Linked DNA regions of Homo sapiens: regions 2, 3 and 4 are each linked to region 1. The links come from fine-mapping of genetic effects on gene expression. A gene starts in region 1. Each other region holds a variant in brackets. All regions are shown on one strand. Distances are from middle to middle.

Region 1 (5,151 bases):
TGGAAATATATTCCAGAAATGAGAGGGGAAGAATACTGATTATAGGAAATTATTGCAAATATGGAAATTAGGGGTTATTAAAGTAAATTTATGCAGTTATCTCAGCATAGGAGTAGTTTCTTATGTTTCATACACAATTATGCATTGCATAAAAGCTTTCAGTCAACCATGGATCGCATATACAAGTGGTCCCAAAGATTGTTAACACTTTATTTTACTGTATCTTTTCTATGTTTAGATACATAAATACTTTCCATTGTGTTACGAATGCCTACAGTATTCAGTACAATACTATGCTGTACAGATTTCTAGGTTAAGAGCAATAGGCTATTCCATATAGCCTTAGGTGTGTAGCAGGCTTATGAAAGTACACTCTATGACGTTGGCACAATGAAAAAAATCACCCAGCAATGAACTTCTCAGAACATATCCCCATTGTTAGGAGGCGCACGACTGTATTTAGTCCAACAACTTGCTGAAATGTGATTCTACCATTTTTCCAGTCAACTCCTAAGTTTTAAATACCATACATCTGCCACCTTACCAGGCAGTTTCAACCATAACAACAGAAGAATACTCTTGGCAAATAGATCCCACTCTCTGAGGGTTGTGTTGGGGCTCAGAAAATACTACCCCGAAGTATGACACTTTGGCATGCTGAATACTTTGAACTAAAAGAGATTGGAAGGCCTCAGAAGCAGCCTCGGAAGCAGTCTCTCCCTCTGATCTCCTGCCCTTCTGTCTCCTGCCCATCTTTCGTCCCAGAAGTGAGTCACAGAAACCAGAATTCTTCCCCAAGGTGAGTGATAGAAACTAGGATCCCTCTCCTACAAAGCAAGCCATAAAAACTGGAACTATTAAGCTTTCCCTGCCATTGTCTATAGGAACTGGCCATAAAGAAATTCTCTAATCTACCTTGCCTGATAGTAGGTCGCTAAGACCCTCATTCCAGAAGGGACCTTCCTCCTCCGTAGGAGGAAGAAATGATACACAGAGAGGCCAAGAAGAATCTGAACAAACAGACCTTGCTGGGCTTCCTTCCTCAGTTTATTAACATTAGAGTATATCCTTTGTCCAGTCACATTTTTACACAGTTGTCTATTCTTCATGGGTCCTACGCATAAAAATAGAGATCTCCCTGGTCTCTGAAGTGCCTGGTGGTGTAAAACTTTGATTAGATTTGCTCTGCTTTTACCTTGTTAACCTATCTTCTGTTTTAAGGAGTGGTGGCTGTGATCCTTACAATGGGTGGTGAGGAAAGGTACTAAAGTTTTCGGCCCCTACGTTGCACTTTAAATAAATAAATGTATAAAAGCAAAGTAGACAAAGACACATGAAGTCATAATGAAAATACCAGAGTCAGCCAAGGAAGAAGGCAGACTTGCAGTTGAAATGCTCCAGATCACTTTGTCCACCGAACGAAAACATCTAAGAACATACAGTCCATACTCCAAGTTTTAAACGACTGTCCACCAAGAAGGGAAAAGGAGAACTGATGGCTCCTCTTAGGCCCATTCAAGACAAGGGGGTCCCAATTCCCTTGCTTTAGACTGGTGGGACTGGCAGGTAAACCTGAGGCAAATGACTGACTACAGGTTCCAAGGCCAGTTACTCCAATTAGAAAGCAAAACACAAAGTTTCAAAAAACAGTGAAGGCAGTCGGGAGGCTGAGGCACGACAATCGCTTTAACCCGGGAGACGGAGGTTGCGGTGGGCCGAGATCACGCCACTGCACTCCAGCCTGGACAACAGTGCGAGACTCCGTCTCAAAAACAACAACAACAACAAATGGTGAAGGGATGAGGCTGAAACATCACGGGAAGTAAAATAAATAATTGTAACAAGAAAACAATAAAGCATTGGAGAATCCACCCAGGCACTTCCACTGCTTAAAAAGGTACAGACTACAGAAGCCAAAAGGCCCGGGAACTCCGGTCCCGGAACTCAACACCCAGACTGAAGCGAGCGCGGGGAAGCAGTTCCGGTGACCCCCTCCCGCCCCTCTCTCATCAACCCCGCCCCCTGGGCCCGCCCCGTCCCGCCCGGCTACTCACTGGATTCGCTTCCCACATAACGGTGACAAAATCGAGCGGAGAGAGCCTGTGGGAAGGGGCTAGCCGCGGGGCCTGGGTGTTGGATTTTTTTTTTTCCCGCGGGTCCCCGGGAGCGAAGGGACGGAGATGCAACCTTTACGAAGGCCTTCCTCCTCCCCCTCCCTGTCACAAGCCAGCGTTTACAGACCACCCAACCTCCCGACTTCCGCCCGACGTTGGCCAGTCAGATCTGTCTCCGCCCCACTCCTACAAGCTCGCCCCGCCCCTGCACGCTTATCCATACGCGCGCGGGCGGTCGTCCTGGGCGGGGCTTGCGAGTCTGTGTCTGACGAAGGAGTTTAAAGGGTTTCTGGTCCAACTGTATCACCCAGTGATCTTAAAGCCACGGCTGGCTGTATTTCTTTCCTATGAAACAAATTTTTATTGATCACCGTGTAACGACCAAGAGTCACACAGGCCTGGCAATGGCATTTGGGAGAAACTTCATAATCTTTCAATATCTTCATCCTCAAAATGGAGATGGTAGTAATATCTCCCTATGAGTGAGATTATTGAAAGCATTTAGCACAGTATTTGGCACACAGAGTTCAATAAGTGACGGTTATTTGCTCACAAGGGAACCTTTACATACTATCCCTGCCCTCAAGATTTTATAATCTAGAAAAGAAAGCAAAAAGTAGTTTAGAAAAGTTAAAAAGTGCAATATGATTTATAGGTAATATGGTGAATAGAGAGTGCTATGCGAGCATATTTACCTAGAGTAGAGTGTCAGGAAAGCTCCCTCAAGATGTTTAAAACCATGAGGATGTATTCCTACTGATGTAAAGAGAGCTAACAGAGTGAAATAATCTTCCATGCAACAAAGGATCTACCCCATAGGAAATGAAAATTAAACAGCTCATTATAGATCCTTCTGGACTTTTCTATGCCTCTACACATTGAAAAAAATGTAATCAAAGAATACCTATAGATTTAGAACCTGATTTTTTTTTCACTTTAAAGATTATGTGGCTATCCTTCCATTCCATTAAGTTTAAATCTGTTTCATCATTTTATTTATTTATTTAGGCAGAACCTCGCTCTGTCGCCCAGGCTGGAGCGCAGTGGCGCCATTTTGGCTCACTGCAACCTCCGCCTCCCGAGTTCAAGCGATTCCCGTGCCTCAGGCTCCTGAGTAGCTGGGATTACAGATGTGCGCCACCACGTCCCGCGAATTTTTGTATTTTTAGTAGAGACAGGTTTTCGCCATGTTGGCCAGGCCAGTCTCGAACTCCTGACCCCAGGTGATCCACCTGCCTTGGCCTCCCAAAGTGCTGGGATTACAGGTGTGAGCCATCTTGCACCCGGCCATATTTTAAAGTAGACTCATGGCATTCCATAACTTATGCGTATACTACGTACACACAAATAGACACACACATTTGAAATAATCTACTGAATAGACGTTTGAGTGGTTTTCTATTTTTCACTATCCCAAAAAAATCCTTCAACAGGCATTTCTTCACATTTGTCCATTTACTTCTTGGAATTAATTCCTGGAAATAAAATAGTTTACTAAGAGATTATTTTTGCCAAATGGTTGACCAGTTGCCCCCATGTCATTTAGTGAATATTCTTTCCTCACTACTTTGAAGTGCCACTGTTAATTACAACCTAAATTTGCATATACATATACATAGGTATACATACACGTATATATCTGTTTCTGAACATTCTCCTCTATTAATTATCTGCTTATTCCTAAAATATGCCACAGTTATAATCATTACATATTTAATATATTTGCCTTTTCATAAAGGAACCTCTCCTAATTCTCTTCTTTTTCAAAATTTTCAATATCATGGGTCTTTCCATTCAGAAATACTTGTTTTCTGTATCTTTAGATGCATTAACAATTTTTTTTCAGATCTGCATCAGCATCTGTAAAAAAAAAAAAAAAATCACATAGGTTTGCATAATCCTTGGGAAGTTTGTTCCTAGATATTTTATAGTTTTTTTGTAAGTGAGATATTTCTTATTGCTGTAATTTAGGAAAGCTATTGACTTTTGTTTATTTACCTTGTATCCTACCACACTATGAAAAAATGTCTTGTTAGTTCTAATAGCTTGACAGCTCATCTCTATGAATTTGTACACAGACAATCATTATCACCTGCAAATAATGCGTTTCTTTCTTCCTATTGCATTGGTCAAAACATCAGAAAAATGTTTAAGACTACAGGACAAGATAATGGATATCCAGCTTTAATGCAGTAAGGCAAGCATGTGCCCATTTGGTGCTAGTGCTAGTTGGTATTCTTTTTTTTTTTTTTTGAGCTGGAGTCTCGCTGTGTCGCCCAGGCTGGAATACAGTGGCACAATCTGGACTTACTGCCACCTCTGCCTCCTGGGTTCCAGCAATTCTCCTGCCTCAGCCTCCCGGGTAGCTGGGACTACAGGCACATGCCATCATGCCTGGCTAATTTTGTATTTTTAGAAGAGATGGAGTTTCACCATGTTGGCCAGGTTGGTCTCGAACTCCTGACCTCAGGTGATCCACCCGCCTCAGCCTCCCAAAGTGCTGGGATTACAGACGTGAGCCACTGCGCCTGCTAGTTGGTGTTCTGAAAATACACTATCATCTTTAAAGAAATTTTCTTCTATCCTGTTTTACTACATGCTGTTAAATCAGGAAAGAGTGCAAAATTTTACCAACTGTCTCTTAGCCTCTATCACTATATTTGTTTTTTACTCTGACTCTTTTATATAATGAATTATGCTCATTGATTTCCTAGTGTTCAACACATTCTTACATTTCTGAAATAAACTCTGCTTTGTCATGTTCTATTATTTTTTGATCAAATGAAAGCCATGCTGGGTTTGATTTGTTAATCTTTTATTTAGGATTAAAATGTATTTATAATTAATAAAATTGGTCCATTGTTACTGATTTTTGTGCTTGTCTGTAACAAGTTTTGGTATCAGAGTAATGCTAGCCTTGAAGAATGAACAGTAGCAGTTTAAGTAATTTAGGAACTAGCTCTTCCTTGAAGTTGGAAGCGAATTTTTACAAAGCAGGTTTAACTAGAAAGGTTAGAGCCAGGTCCTCAATCTTTTG
Region 2 (5,151 bases), 59 kb before region 1:
TCACATAGCTCCCGTCTTTGGAAGGAGGTCGCATGTATTTGGAGTCTCCGTTTATGTAATCTCCAATTAGCACTCGAGCAAGAAACATAGATTTATATGTTCTAAACAGATGCCGCTGTTGCAAGCTGACACCATGAATTTGGAATGTGTTCCCATGCTTTATGTCATCTTTGCAGAAACGACTGGAATAAGCAGCATCTCTAGCAAAATAGGTTCCTTAAACAAAGAGGACCAAGAAAAGCCAAGATTACTCCGAAGAATATATTAAAAACAAGCAAAAACATTTTGTCAGGAGAATAGATGCATAGAATTGTATAATAAAAATAGATGTGGAATTTCCTCATCTGCAGATCTTTAAGAGAAGAATAGAAATCCATCTGTTATGGACAGCTGTAGTATAGACTGCCATAGGAATAGATTTGTTGGTACAGACCAGTCCTCACCACCAACACCATCCCCTGCCCCCACCAAAATATAGCTATCAGACTTCTGTTTTTAAAATAAATCTTACAAAGAAAACAATTAATAAAACAGATAAAACTGGTTTAATGATTAAAAGTGTGGTTGGACCTGAGTTTTGTTTTGTTCTGTTTTTTTGAGACAGAGTCTTGCTCTGTCTCCCAAGCTGGAGTGCAGTGGCGCGATCTCAGCTCACTGCAACCTCCGCCTCCCAGGTTCAAGCGATTCTCCTCCCTCAGCCTCCTGAGTAGCTGGGATTACAGGCGCGTGCCACCACACCCAACTAATTTTTATATTTTTTTAGTAGAGACAGGGTTTCACCATGTTGGCCAGGCTGATCTTGAACTCTTGACCTCAGGTGATCCACCTGCCTCGACCTCCCAAACTGCTGGGATTACAGGCGTGAGCCACCATGCCCGGCCCTGAGTTTTACTGCTTGGCCCTCCCTCCCGTTTCTATTTCCTTTCACCACTTCCTCACCCTGTTCCCTTGTCAACATCCAGCAAAGCTCTAGAGAGCACAGTGGAAACCGATGGCCTACAGGGATTCTTTTAAACCCCAAGAAACCGTATTTCTATGATATGGGATAACAATTCAGTAATATTTCTGGAAACAATAGAATCCCATATCCATGAAAAGATTTCTGAGAGAGTATAATGCTATTCATATCTGAGCATTCCAAAACAAAAATGATTTTACTGGCTCACTGCCTACACATGAAAACTCGATAAAGCAGCCAACTCTTCTGAAATGGTAGACACAAGAGATAGACATCATTAAGGGCATTCTTACTCTAAAAAAATGTGGAAATGAATTGCAAAGTCTCATATTTACCTAACACTGATGGGATTTATGTAACACCTTCTGACCTCCTTACAGTTAAATAAGTGGAATGGCCTTTTTAGTAGTTATTTTTTAAATTAATTTACATTTTCAAAATGCAGCATATCCTGATCCTAAACAGTAGTCAGTTCTCTTGCTGGAAGCAAGGTACAAAGTAAGGACCAGAAAATTAAATGTACATCCCATACCTTTTCCCCTCACCTCTCTCCTTAATTTGCCTGAGTACCAGACATAAATTGAAAAACTTGGATTTTCACAACATTATAAATAACGTGAAGTTTTCCCCCACTATTCCTTATTGCTCACTAATATTCTTACCTATGATTTTCTTAAAAACAAAATAAAACAAAAACACTAGTATCTATTCTCGTACACAATGCAATTATAATCCATTTGTTTTATCATTCTCTATATATTTGCCATAAAGCAGTTCATATTTATATTTATATTCCTCTAAAAAGAGGAAACTCTCTCCTGGGGCTCAAATTGGACCTGGAATTCTGATAATTACCTTTTCCAAAGACAGCACCATGTATACCATTTATTCTCCAATCAAAGTTATGAATGCAGATTGCTTCCACAAATTCACTGCTGGTACCATGAAACAGCATTTGTTCATTAATCTGAGGCACACCTCTTTTTTTCTTGAGCTGAGCCTTTTTCCTAAAAACACAATATACACAGACACAAAAGCACACAGAAATATACCATAAGTAGCATTTATTAATCTTAATGAGCAAGGTTCAATAGAAAGCGTAAAACAGGAAATACTTTAATATAAATAACAAGTGGACAAAGCAAGTCTAGAAAAGAAATAATTTCAAATGTTCTTGGACACATAAATCATCTCATCAAAAATTATTAGTTAACACTGAAACTTAAGGTTGAAAATTATGCCAAAAACTATAGTTATCCCATGCTATGCCCCAATATCATAAAGGTAATTGATTGTCTAAACCAGCTAACCTTTATAGATGCCTAAAAATGAGACAACAAACAAGTAATACAAAGTTTGCAGAGACTTTAGACAGTGAATTCCTTGAGCAGGGATCATGTCATATGCTTTTTATCCTCAGAAACTAGAAAATGTTGGTTCAGTTGACTAAATTTTGCACCATAGGGTTGGGAGGGACATTAAGCCATCCAGTTTAATCCTCTTCCCAAGGATAAATCTATCCTAACACATAAAAGCATATTTAATGTAGGACTGATTGTAACAGAAAACAAAAACTGAAAACAGCCTAAAATTATTTCACAGAGAAATGAATATAGTCATGTATTTACATATAAAAGTTAAAAGTAATGAAGTAGATCTATGTGCATTAACATAGTAAATCTTAAAAAATAATATTGAATGTAAAAAGAATTTTGCAAAAAGAGATAGAGAACTCAAAATAATACTGTGTATTATGTAGGTATACATACACAGGTAGTAAAAAATACAAAATACAAACAATAAGGCACCATACCAATCTCAGGAGGAAAGAAGGAGAGTAGGACAGGGATGGAGTAAACACTTCACCTGTATCTGTGTGAAGAGGAAGGAAATGTGACAAGTATCAAAATGTTAAATCTGATTGGTAGATACATGGGAGTCTGCAAACTATTTGCTGCATTTTCATTCTTGAAACATTTCATAAAAATCATATTTTAAAAATTAAAAAGAATCCCCTCC[C/G]CCGGCTTCTGATAGCTCTTTAATGCCTGCTTCAATTCATCCAGTGTCAAGTACTCACAGCATCACGTGCTCACTTTGCAAAACAGCACAATTTATTTGTGATCAGCTGTAATAGTTGGAAAGTACATCCATCTCAATGCCAAACCAAATCTGCCTTCTGTTACTTCTATTGATTGGTCTTAGTTATTCTCTTATGAACATTAACAACTCAAATCACTCTTACACAAAACAACATTGCAAATTTGAACACCTACCTAGGCTTTCTTTTCTTGGTTAAATATACACCATTCCTTCAACCACTCCTGACACAGCATAGCTTCTAGGTCTTTCTTTATCCCAACAGTCTTTAGTTAACAAGAATCTGCTGGATACTTTCTAGTTTATAAATGTTGGCATGAAATAGCAACAGTCCAGATATCATCAGACAGCACTGACTCCACCGACACCACTGAATGTATTTTGGTAACAGGGCAGCAAACTGCATCCATAATCAAGTGTGTAGTCGGTTAAAACTCCCAGGACTTTTCCAAACCAGACCTCTCTTAGCTTGCTAAATCTGTGCAACTGATTTATAAACTGAATGCAATAGATTTCAGTTAAGCTTTACTTGATATAGTAATTTAAAAAGTAAAAATTAAATAACAGTAAAATATCCGTATCTCAGACTGAGTTCTGTAAATGATAGGCAGCTCGTTGAATATGTTTGGGAATGGATACCTGCATTTAAATGGTGACAGAGATGAAAACGCATACGGTCTTTCTCAAGAGTCACTTGGCAGTATGTATCAAAATTTAAATGTATATGCTTTGATCTATTTGTGACAGTCTTTTCAGACCATTAAGCATGACATCAGAAGGTCGTGCATTTAGCAAATGTTTACTTTACAAAAAGTCAGCATGCTTTCACTAAGAACTTCCTTTTTCAGAACTTTATGTTCTCACTTTTTTTAAACAAGGCGCATTTGTTCCCTTTATAAAAACAAACGAAAAAAGTTTTTTAAATTAAAAAAAGAAGATAATACTTGTTTTTACCCACTGTTTCAATCTTCCAAGGTCTTTCTGACTGCTGATTCACTCACTCAACAAATAAGCTACCCCTTCTAGTTTTGAATCCCTCACAAGTGTGATAAGCAAGCCCTCTACATTTTCATCCATTTCTGATAAAAATTTTGAAGGATCCAAGAAGAGAGCATGCATGCCTTTCGAGTTACTCTTTGCGTAAGACTTTTTGTCTACTAGTTTTTCTCTTTGAAATACCCACCAGCACATATTTCTCCATCTTGTCTTCCTGAAAAGAAACTTTCTCAACCACTATAAAGTGAGAAACCAAGCTAGACTGTCTAAGGGGCCTATCCATCTACCACTATGGTAATCCTATTAGTTAGTTTGGCATTAGTGAATCCATACTGGTTTTCTCAAAGAAACATTAGTATCATACATAATGCCAGGCTTCATGGTCTGTAATGTCAAACTTGTCAATGTTGTGCTTCATGATCTGCAATGACTAGAATCCACTCTAAGGAAATTCTGTCTCTACTAAAAGATACAAAAATTAGCTGGGTGTGGTGGCACACACCTGTAATCCCAGCTACTTGGGAGGCTGAGGCAGGAGAATTACTTGAATCCAGGAGGCGGAGGTTGTAATGAGCTGAGATTGTGCCACCGCACTGCAGCCTGGGGAACAGAGCAAGACTCCATCTCAAAAAGAAGGCCAGGCGCAGAGGCTCACGCCTGTAATTCCAGCACTTTGGGAGGCTGAGGTGGGCGGATCACGAGGTCAGAAGATCCAGACCATCCTAGCTAACATGGTGAAACCCTGTCTCTACTAAAAATACAAAAAATTAGCCAGGCGTGGTGGCGGGCGCCTGTAGTCCCAGCTACTCAGGAGGCTGAGGCAGGAGAATGGCATGAACCCCGGAGGCGGAACTTGCAGTGAGCTGAGATCGCGCCACTGCACTCCAGCTTGGGTGTCAGAAAGAGATTCTGTCTCAAAAAAAAAAAAATTCATTTATCACTACTTTTCGGGCACAAATTCGATTGAATCTCGGTTTGAAAATTCACTGGAGTTTCTCTTAGATATTATAAATAAACTGTGGGTTAAAGGGCATGGAGTATGGGCATAGGCAGGCATGGAAAACAACGCTTACTTACTAGATTAGATGGTGCATATATAC
Region 3 (5,151 bases), 24 kb before region 1:
CCTGATATCAAAACCCAATAAGGACACAACAAACAAAGAAAACCATAGGCCAATATCACCCATGTACATAGATGCAAAAATCCTCAATAAAATACTAGAAAACTGAATTCAACAACACATTAAAAAAATCATTCACCATGATCAAGTGGGATTCACATCCCAAGGATGCAAGGATGGTTCAACATATGCAAATCAATCAACATGACAGATCACAACAACAGAGAACCAAGAAGAAAAACCATATAATCATTTTAATAGATGCTTTAAAAGCATTTGATAAAATTCAACATCTTCTTATAATAAAAACCCTCAACAAACTGGATATAGAAGAAACGTATCTCAAAATAATAAAGGCCAGATGACAAACCCACAGCTAGTATCACACTAAATGGGAAAAAATTAAAAGCCTTTCTTCTAAGATCTTGAACAAGACAAAGATGTCCAGTTTCACTACTGTTACTCAACATGATATTGGAAGTCCTGGCAAGAGTTAGGCAAGAAAGAGAAATAAATGGCAACCAAATTGGAGAGAAAGAAGTTAAATTTCCTTTGTTGACAGAAGACATAATCCTATTCTTAAAGAAACCTAAAAACTCCACCAAAAATTATTAGAACTGATAAATTCAGTAAAACTGCAGGTTACAAAATCAACATACAAAAATTAGTAGCATTTATACATGCCAAGAGCAAACAATCTAAAAAAGAAATCAAGAAAGCAATTCAATTTACAATAGCTACAAAGAATATAAAATACATACGAGTCAATTTAACTAAAATGAAAGATCTATACAGGAAAAACTATAAAATGCTTATGAAAGAAATTAAAGACATAAAAATGGAAAGATATTCCATGCTCATGAATTGAAACAATTAATATTGTTAAAATGACAATACTGCCCAAAGCAATTTACAGGTTCAACATAATCCCTATCAAAATACCATGACATTCTTCACAGAAATAAACAAACGCAAAAAATCCTAAAATTTATATAGAACCACAAAAGACCCTGAATAGCCAAAGCAATCTTGAGCAAAAATAAGGCTAGAGGCCTCACATTACCTGACTTCAAAATATACTACAAAGCTATAGTAATCAAATCAGCACGATACTTGCATAAAAAGACACATAGACCAATGGAACAGAATAGAGAACCCAGATATAAATCCACACATTTACAGCTAACTCATTTCAACAAAGTCACCACGAACATAGAATGGGAACAGTCTCTTCAATAAATGGTGCTGGGAAAACTGAATAAAGACTATCTAATTCGCAGAAGAATAAAACTATACCACTATCTCTAACCACATTAAAAAATCAAATCAAAATGAATTAAAGACTTAAATCTAAGATCTGAAACTATGAAACTACTAGAAGAAAACACTGGGGAAATAAGAACATTGGTCTGGGCAAGATTTTTTGTGTGAGACCTCAAAAGCACTGCAACCAAAGCAAAAATGGATCACTGGAATTACATCAAACTAAAAAGAGTCTACACAACAAAGGAAACAATCAACAAAGTGAAGAAACAAGTCACAGAATGGGAGAAAATATGTGCAAACTATCAATGTGACAATGGATTCATAATAATAATATATAAGGAGCTCAAACAATTCAACAGCAAAAGAAAAAAAAAAACACAAATAATCCAATTTAAAAATGGGCAAAAGACCTGAATAGATATTTCTCAAAAGACATACAAATTGCCAACAGGTATATGAGAAAATGCTCAAAATCACTAATTTTCAGAGAAATGCAAACCAAAACCACAATGAGACATCATCTCACCTCAGTTAAAATAGCTTTTATAAAAAGACAAAGAATAACGAATGCTAGCAAGGATGTGGAGAAAATGGAACCCTCGTTCACTGTTGGTGGGAATGTAAATAAGAACAGTCACCATGGAAAATTATGGAGGTACCTCAAAAAAAAATAGAACTACCATATTATCCAGCAACTCCACGACTGAGTATATACCTAAAAGAAAAAAAATCAGTACACTGAAGGGATATCTGCACTCCCATGTTTATTGCAGAATGATACATAATAGCCAAGATAGGGAATCAACCTAAGTATCCATCCATGGATGAATGGATAAAGAAAATGTGGTTTATATACACAATGGATTATCGAGCTGTAAAAAAGAATGGAGTCATGACATTGGCAGCAACATGGATGAAATGAGAATTCGTTATGTCAAGTAAAATAAGCC[A/G]AGCACGGAAAGACAAATATCACCTGTTCTCATTCATATGTAGGAGCTAAATAAGTGGAACTCATGAAGAGACAAAGTAGATTGGTGGTTACCAGAGGCTGGGAAGGGCAGGGGGAGAGACTGATTAAAAGAGGTTGATTAATGGGTATAAATATACAGTTAGATATAAGAAATAAGACCTAGAAGTGATAAGACCTAGTGTTCAATAGATCAGTAGGGTGACTGTAGTTTACAATAATCTATTGTACATTTCAAAATAGCTAGAAGGGAATAGTTTGAATGGTTTCTAGCATAAAGAAGACAAGTATTTAAGGTGATAGATATCCTATTACCCTGATTTCATATGTAAATTTTATGTGAATTTATTAAATTATCACATGTCCTGAAAATATGTATATCGATTATGTATCAACTTTTTAAATATGTATTTAATTTTAAATATGTATTTAATTAAATACATATCATTATGCCTATAATATACAGAACTGTTAAATATACAATAGCAGCATCAAGAAGGCAGGTGGGAACAAAGCTATATTGGAGAAGGAAATAACACCATATGGTAACTCAAATCCACAAGAAGAATCACAGTAAATAAGATGGTATATGTAATAAATTAAATATAGATGCTACATACTTGTTCTCCCCTTTTTTCTATCAGCTTCCTTAAAAGACATATAATTATGTAAAGTAATAATAAAAATGTATAGTTGGGTTGGTAACATATATAGACATAATATATATAGCATAATTATATCAGTTCGAACACCCCTAATCCAAAAATCTGAAATCAGAATTCCTCCAAAATCCAAAACTTTTTGAGACTTTACATAAGGCCACAAGTGGAAAATTCTACTCCTGACTTCATGTGATGGGTCACAGTCAAAATGAGAGAGTATAATATACAGTTTATTCAAGGGAAAAAAGACTTTCCCAGGCCCTTTCAGCTGTAATATATATTTTCCTCACATGTCCAGATTCCCCCACGCAAGCATGTCCACAAAGGGTAATAAAATGGTATATGTACAGGCTGGATACGCCAATGGCAGGTTCCTCACAATGCCCCACAAGAGGCCAATATCTATGTGCATTACTGTGTTTTTTTCTTATTCTCTGCTCTGCAGTATAAAGATACTGTTGACAAGGTCAGAAAGGCCTGCAGATATCACTGTGGATAACAGTGATAAGAAAAAAAGGAAAGCATTTATATTTATCTACAAAACAGAAAGTCAAGCTGTTATAGCAACTGGACAGCAATGTTAAGTCTGAAATATCTTACAGAAGAGTATGGTGTTGAAATGACCACTATATATATGATCTGAAGAAAGAGAAGGACCAACTATGAAAGTTCTATGTTGAAAGTAATGAACAGAAGTTAATAAAAATGGAAAAATCCTACATAAAGCTAAAAACAAAATCTTGTTCATGTATTGAAAGGATAGTCCATCAGCATCACAGAGAATCCATGCCACTTAATAGTATGCTGATCATGAAATAATCAAAGATCATGATGAACTGAAAATTGAAAAGAATACTGAATACTCAACAGGCATGTTACAGAAATTTAAGAAAAGATACAGCATTGGGGGTCCATTCCAAGATGGCCAAATAGGAACAGCTCTGGTCCACAGCTCCCAGCGTGACTGACACAGAAGACAGGTGATTTCTGCATTTCCAACTGAGGTACCTGGTTCATGTCATTGGGACTGGTTGGGCAGCGGGTGCAGCCCACAGAGGGCAAGCCGAAGAAGGGCAGGGCATCGCCTCACCCAGGAAGCACAAGGGATTGGGGGATTTCCCTTTCCTAGCCAAGGGAAGCCGTGACAGATTGTACCAGGAAAACTGGGACACTGCTACCCAAATACTGCCCTTTACCAACAGTCTTAGCAAATGGCACACCAGGAGATTATATCCCGCACCTGGCTCAGCGGGTCCCATGCCCACAGAGCCTTGCTCACTGCTAGCGCAGCAGTCCGAGATCAAACTGCAAGGCAGCAGCCTGGCTTGGGGAGGGGTTTCCACCATTGCTGAGGCTTGAGTAGGTAAACAAAGTGGCCAGGAAGCTTGAACTGGGTGGAGCCCACCGCAACTCAATGAGGCCTGCCTACCTCTGTAGACTCCACCTCTGGGGGCAGGGCATAGCTGAACAAAAGGCAGCAGAAACTTCTGCAGACTTAAATGTCCGTGTCTGACAGCTCAGAAGAGAGCAGTGGTTCTCCCAGCACAGTGTTTGAGCTCCAAGAATGGACAGACTGCCTCCTCAAGTGGGTCCCTGACCCCCGTGTAGCTTAACTGGGAGACACCTCCCAGTAGGGGCCGACTGACACCTCATACAGTCGGATGCCCCTCTGAGACGAAGCTTCCTGAGGAAGGATCAGGCAGCAATATTTGCTGTTCTGCAATATTTGCTGTTCTGCAGCCTCCGCTGGGATACCCAGGCAAACAGGTTCTGGAGTGGACCTCCAGCAAACTCCAACAGACGTGCAGCAGAGGAACCTGACTGTTAGAAGGAAAACTAACAAACAGAAAGGAATAGCATCAACACCAACAAAAAGGATATTCACACCAAAACCCCATCTATAGGTCACCGTCATCAAAGACCAAAGGTAGATAAAACCACAAAGATGGGGAAAAACCAGAGCAGAAAAGCTGAAAATTCTAAAAACCAGAGCACCTCTTCTCCTCCAAAGGAACGCAGCTCCTTGCAAGCAACGGAACAAAGCTGGATGGAGAATGACTTTGACGAGTTGACAGAAGTTGGCTTCAGAAGGTTGGTAATAACAAACTTCTCCGAGCTAAAGGAAGATGTTTGAACCCATCGCAAGGAAGCTAAAAACCTTGAAAAAAGATTAGACGAATGGCTAACTAGAACAAACAGTGTAAGAGAAGACCTTAAATGACCTGATGGAGCTGAAAACCATGGCACAAGAACTATGTG
Region 4 (5,151 bases), 280 kb before region 1:
AGTTGTAAGATTGAGGACCAAGTACCTGCCATATCAGTGGATCTGGGGAAACTGGTTTAGCTGTGGAGTTTGCATGAATGATGTCATTTAAGGGGAGATAGGAGGGCCTACTCTACAAATCTCTTCCCCATACTGTCTGAAGATCTTCATTCTGTTGAACTAATTAAAAACAGCAGCATGTTCAGATGCATGTATGTCCATGCATTTAGTGGGTGACAGGGTATTCCTCATCCATCCCTTGCTATGAACTTGTAGTATCGGGTTGTTTGTCTTCTGATCCCCAGCACTGAGGAGATGGGGATGTGATGGGAGGAGAGGCCACTGGGACTGAGAGGGAGTTCTGATGGGGCTTGGAGGAAGGCTATAAGGACTATGCACCTGACCCAACAAGAGTACTGGGGTGGGTGGTTTCAGTGAGTCCCAGGGGAAGCCCAGCAACTTCTATGCAGGGTCCCAGCCTCATCCCTTTGGAGACTTCGTCTCTGACTCTTTCTTCCCACCTCCCCTGTTCTCTCACCCCTCAGCCCCTGATGCTCCCTACACCCACTGGAAGCAGACCGTCTTCTACTTGGAAGATTACCTCACTGTCCGGAGGGGGGAGGAAATCTACGGGACCATATCCATGAAGCCAAATGCCAAAAATGTGGTAAGTGCCGAGGGACATAAGGACATAAGGGAGAAGGGCCCCACAGAGCTGGCTCGCTCAGGACCCACTTGCCCGGGTTCTTAAGTGTCTCATGAACAGTCAGAAACTTACTGAGGCAGGCAGTCGGTAGCCACATGTGGACATGACTAGGCCTAATTGAGGGACTCAGGCTTGACCCCTCAAAACTCCGCAAATAGAGGTTTTCCCTGGGTCCAATTCTGGACTGCCTTGGCTTTGAAGACAGCTTCCAGCTCTTCCTGTGAGGGGCTTTCAAATAAATGGGTCCTACCTCATTTAGTAAGAGCTGGGCCAGGAGATAAGCTCCTGGTGGCTGGAGGATGTTTGGCGTGCATTTCTTCAGCTGGCCTGGTGCGAGGGAGACTTGCTGGCACTTTCGGGGCAGCCCCAGGTGTGGGCATGAGCGCTAAAAACGTCTGCAGAGTGCTCTGAAGGTCACCTCACAGAACACTTAACCACCCCAATCAGTTTACTTCCAGGACGAACTCGGAACGTTTTGTTATTAGAGCAGGAAGGATTTAGGGAGAAATGGAAGAACTTCCTGTGAGGACAAGGAGGCAGCAGAATGGATTCCTGTGGGCTGTTCAGGGGAACCCCTTAGCCAGAAAGCCTTAAGACGCTGGTGCTACCCATCCCTGTGGTTCCAGGAGCAGGTGGTGCCAGAGAGTGGGGCTGTGGCTTCATACCCAGACGGCCGCCTGACCCTTCGCTCTCTCTCTGCCTTGCAGCGAGACCTCGATTTCACAGTAGACTTGGATTTTAAGGGACAGCTGTGTGAAACATCTGTATCTAATGACTACAAAATGCGTTAGCACACGTGGGAAGCTGCAGAGAGCAACGAGAAAAGGAACTCTCACCTCGATCTGCCGTGCCGTCCCAAAGAATACCGTTTGCAGGACTACACACTTGAAAACCAGAGTTTTCAACTCTGCCTTGAAGATTGGTGAACTCCCCAGGGCTCCCGTGGGCTCTGCCACTGGACAGAAGGCCTCCAGCTCCTCCGCTCTGCCCTGGTAGCCCTTCACGAAGGCTTTGTGTTGCCAACAAAGAGCGACCTGGCGTGCTGTGGCTGGGCCCCGAGGGTGGAAACGTATTCGCGTCTCCCCGTCTCCTCCTTAACTGTGACTCTCCGGGTCTTCTGAGTTTTGCATGCTGCGGGTGTCTAGGACAGATTGCTTCCACTAGAACCTGGAGACATAGCATCTTTGATAGCATAAGCCAGATTATCTGTGTGTGCGGTGGTGTGCGTGTGCGTGCATGTGTGAATGTGAGCAGCATAGTTGATATTTACCCACAAACACCTGTATATGCGTGCATATACAACCAAGTGGGTAGACCTAGGTGTTCTCTCAGAGGGGTGTGTGTGTGTGTGCGTGCGCGTGTGCCTAGAATATATATTACTCTCAGAGGAGATTCTGTTGCTTTTGAATAGGAATTTGTTTTGTGATTAGTTCGCCCCTTCCCCACCCCTTACCAGATGTTAAGCAGCTATGAAACATTCTCTGTACTAGTTCTGGTCTCCTTTTGACTGGACTGTGGCTCTGAACCTTGAGCATAGTACCACGGACTCCGTGGGCGCTCAATAAACACACATGAGAACAAACTGGTGGGATGGCTGGTTCCTGGTGCTGTGAAGTGGGAGGGCTGGGGGGAAGCCAGAGGCCATGATGGAGTGGAGACTCAAGGGCAGCAGCACCTACGTGGGTTCACGTTTGCTCCCCAGCAGGGAGGTCAGGGCTGGTCTAAGAGCATCTCCCCCATGGACTCTGAGGGGTCCTACCTTAGAGGGTAAGGAGGTCATGGAGCTGGGGTGGGGGACAGGAGCTAACCAAGAGTGTGCCAGAATGGCAGGCCATGCATAGCCTGGAGACTGCTTAGGATAATGTCCAGCCTTGGTC[C/T]GGGCGTGGTAACAGCGGAATCTGTGAAGGATGGAAATGCAATGTACTTTGCAGGGCGTGGTGGAGTGTTTTGATTTGGTCTGGTCTTGGGCTATGCTTTAGCTTCCAAGACCATGATTCTCATCTATGTCACCTACCTGGGAAGAGACATTCCAGGTGGGGGAAGGAAGAGGGGCCATTTAGAGATGATGGGTGGAGCTGATGGGATCCAGGAAGAAGGAAGATGCAGGGGAGACCTCGGGCCTGGCTTTGCGTGGTTGGGGAGTGCTGGTGATGGCAGAGCCCCTGGATAATGATAACTGAACCCAATAGCAATGGCCTCTGCACTTCCATAAACTTCTGATGTCCATGGACTCTGTCAATTCCATGAAGCCTTGGGAGTTACACGCAGAGGCCTTACCCCAGCCATTTGCTAGCTGAGGTGGGCCAAGGTCTCAAGTCCCAGTTAATGTGCCCTCCCCTGCCCTGCACTGATTCTTCCAAGCCTCAGGCCCAGAGGCTAAGACTGTCTTTTTTATACCTAGAGAAAAACACAGTGAAAATTATTTAATGCTTTTTGTGTACATGTATTGGGAAGAAAAATAGAGAAACTTAAGAGGGCACAGAAGCAAGTGTATTAGAGGAGAGAGGAGATTGAAGGAGGACATTGGAGTGGGGACTCCCTCGGGGGCATTCGAGAACTCAGGAGTTGGTTTCCATTGTAGTGAGAGTTGGGGTCCCCTGGATTCTGCCTACTGACCTGGTTTAACTTTGGGCAGGAAGCTCATTCAACCTGGTGTAGGATCCCATCCATGGTCAACCAGCAAAATCCCACATTGTCAGGAGCCCAGTGGAGCGGTCAAGATGATGGCCTCCTGGGAGCTCCAGGCATTTGGGTCCTGCAGGCATCCCTGACACTCTGGGACCTGGGGAGGCTGCTGGGGCAGGAGGCTTAGGGGAGGACCAGAATGAGCAAAGGCCCAGCAATCTTTCGGGCCTCTCTGACCATCAGAGGAGAAGAGGGCCATCCCAGGGGCCTATCCTGCACCCACCCCCATCTTTAGCTTTCTGGAGTGGTACAAGCCCTGGGCTGCCCCACCACCACCCCTCCCTGCCCCTGGGCTGCAGAAGGGAAGCCTGTAATGCATAAGGGATCAATTCCACAGCAGCCTCCTCCCACCTGCTCAGGCGAATGCTCCAGTGGGAATTATTTCCCTCCGATTCAGTGGGAAATAAGCAATCTCTGCTTTGAACAGCCTCTGAATGGAAGTCAGTGCATGAGATGCGGTCTCGAATGACAACAGAGATGCTATAAAGATGACTTCACTGATAAAACCTGTTTTTTCCTCGACTCTTTGCCTCTTTTACATTTTTGAGGCTGTACAAAACCCTTTAGAGACTTTCTCGCCTGTCACTCTTCCCCTGCTCTGGGGAACTTTGCCCTTCTATTCCCAACTCCCTTCTCCCAAAATGTGGTCCTCTTTTGTGATTGCATCTGGGCTTGTCTGTACAGAGGCCACTCTGTGCTTGTTCCGAAGTCCACGGAGGCATGGTTTCTCTCCCCTCCTAAACCACAAGCTCCAAGGGCGGAGACCTGCCTGGAGAGAGCAGGGTGCGGGTGGCTGGTAACAGAGTGGCAGCTGACCCAGCACTTGCTTGATCCCATGGAATGTGCCCATGAGCACCTGCCCCCCACCCAGGACCTGCAGGCTCCAGCCTCTTCTATTTGTGCTCCTTGGGAGATGCCAATATTTTTTTTACTTTCATAAAAACCACCCCATGGAGGCCATCTACCCTAGATACACCCAAGCCTCTGTCAACTCTGTGGGCGGAAATGAGGCCTTAGCCAGGCCCTCCATGGACCCATCTCCGAAGGCTCCCTCTCCCCTTGACGTCATACCTGCAATCCCACCTATAGACTCCACCTCACTTCAGACCTCAGTAGTGGCATGAAATTAAGCCAGACATCTTGGCCCGTCTCTGCACCGTGTTCACCTGGCCTGGAATCTGTCCCTGGCCTAGGGGCAGTTCTGATCACCCGGCATGTGCCCTGCCTTGATCTCCTTGATCTCACATAGTATGGGGACTCTGTCTTGTTTTTGCAAATCCCCTCACTACCACACTGACGGCCCCAGCCTGGTTTTAGGAGCCCTCTTCCTGAAGAAACATTTTTCAGGACCCCTGCTACCTGCCTGGGTTCCTGACTAGCATCTCTTTAGATATCTTGTTTCTGAGTACAGCTCTACCTGGGGGCACCTAGATTTCCCTAGACCGCCAGGCTGTGGCATATTATACCCAGACTCCTATTTTGTTGTCTGGTGACTTCCAACATAAGTCTGACTTCCCGAGGACAGGTGATCTCCTCAGTACGTGTCTAACCGTAGTGGATGTGCTGAGCTCCAGGCCTGGAGCCTCCAATGTCCCCGTCCCATTGGAAGCAATTAGTCCATATTCAGCAAAGGCTCAGACACAACACATTCCAGTATTGGATACTTAATAGGCTCCAGGCACTGAACTAGGTAGCAGCAGTATAGCAGAGACAGCAGGCATCATGGAACTCTGTGGTTATTAGTGTCTAGCTAGGCTGGGCCTGCTCTTGCCTAAATTTCA

Evidence for each region.
Region 2: its variant is fine-mapped to the expression of PARP11 in cerebellar hemisphere (GTEx, PIP above 0.99).
Region 3: its variant is fine-mapped to the expression of PARP11 in tibial nerve (GTEx, PIP above 0.99).
Region 4: its variant is fine-mapped to the expression of PARP11 in uterus (GTEx, PIP 0.98).

The regions. Positions count from the first base shown.
Region 1 is chr12:3,871,158-3,876,308 of GRCh38, forward strand. It overlaps PARP11 (poly(ADP-ribose) polymerase family member 11), which reads right to left and starts at 2,242. Exons shown (of 8, transcript NM_020367.6): 1 at 2,055-2,242. The coding sequence starts at 2,072. PARP11-AS1 (PARP11 antisense RNA 1) reads left to right here. Exons shown (of 2, transcript NR_183432.1): 1 at 1-799. RefSeq lists a silencer at 1,910-2,019 and enhancers at 2,691-3,211, 3,212-3,731.
Region 2 is chr12:3,812,224-3,817,374 of GRCh38, forward strand. PARP11 (poly(ADP-ribose) polymerase family member 11) reads right to left here. Exons shown (of 8, transcript NM_020367.6): 7 at 1,814-1,965; 8 at 1-216. Among named protein-coding and RNA genes, the nearest start is that of PARP11-AS1, 55 kb to the right of the region's middle. The variant C/G (reference allele first, on the strand shown) is at 2,978.
Region 3 is chr12:3,847,334-3,852,484 of GRCh38, forward strand. The region is part of intron 1 of PARP11 (poly(ADP-ribose) polymerase family member 11); the gene reads right to left. Among named protein-coding and RNA genes, the nearest start is that of PARP11-AS1, 20 kb to the right of the region's middle. The variant A/G (reference allele first, on the strand shown) is at 2,214.
Region 4 is chr12:3,591,707-3,596,857 of GRCh38, forward strand. PRMT8 (protein arginine methyltransferase 8) reads left to right here. Exons shown (of 10, transcript NM_019854.5): 9 at 525-646; 10 at 1,393-2,267. The coding sequence ends at 1,476. Among named protein-coding and RNA genes, the nearest start is that of THCAT155, 100 kb to the left of the region's middle. The variant C/T (reference allele first, on the strand shown) is at 2,563.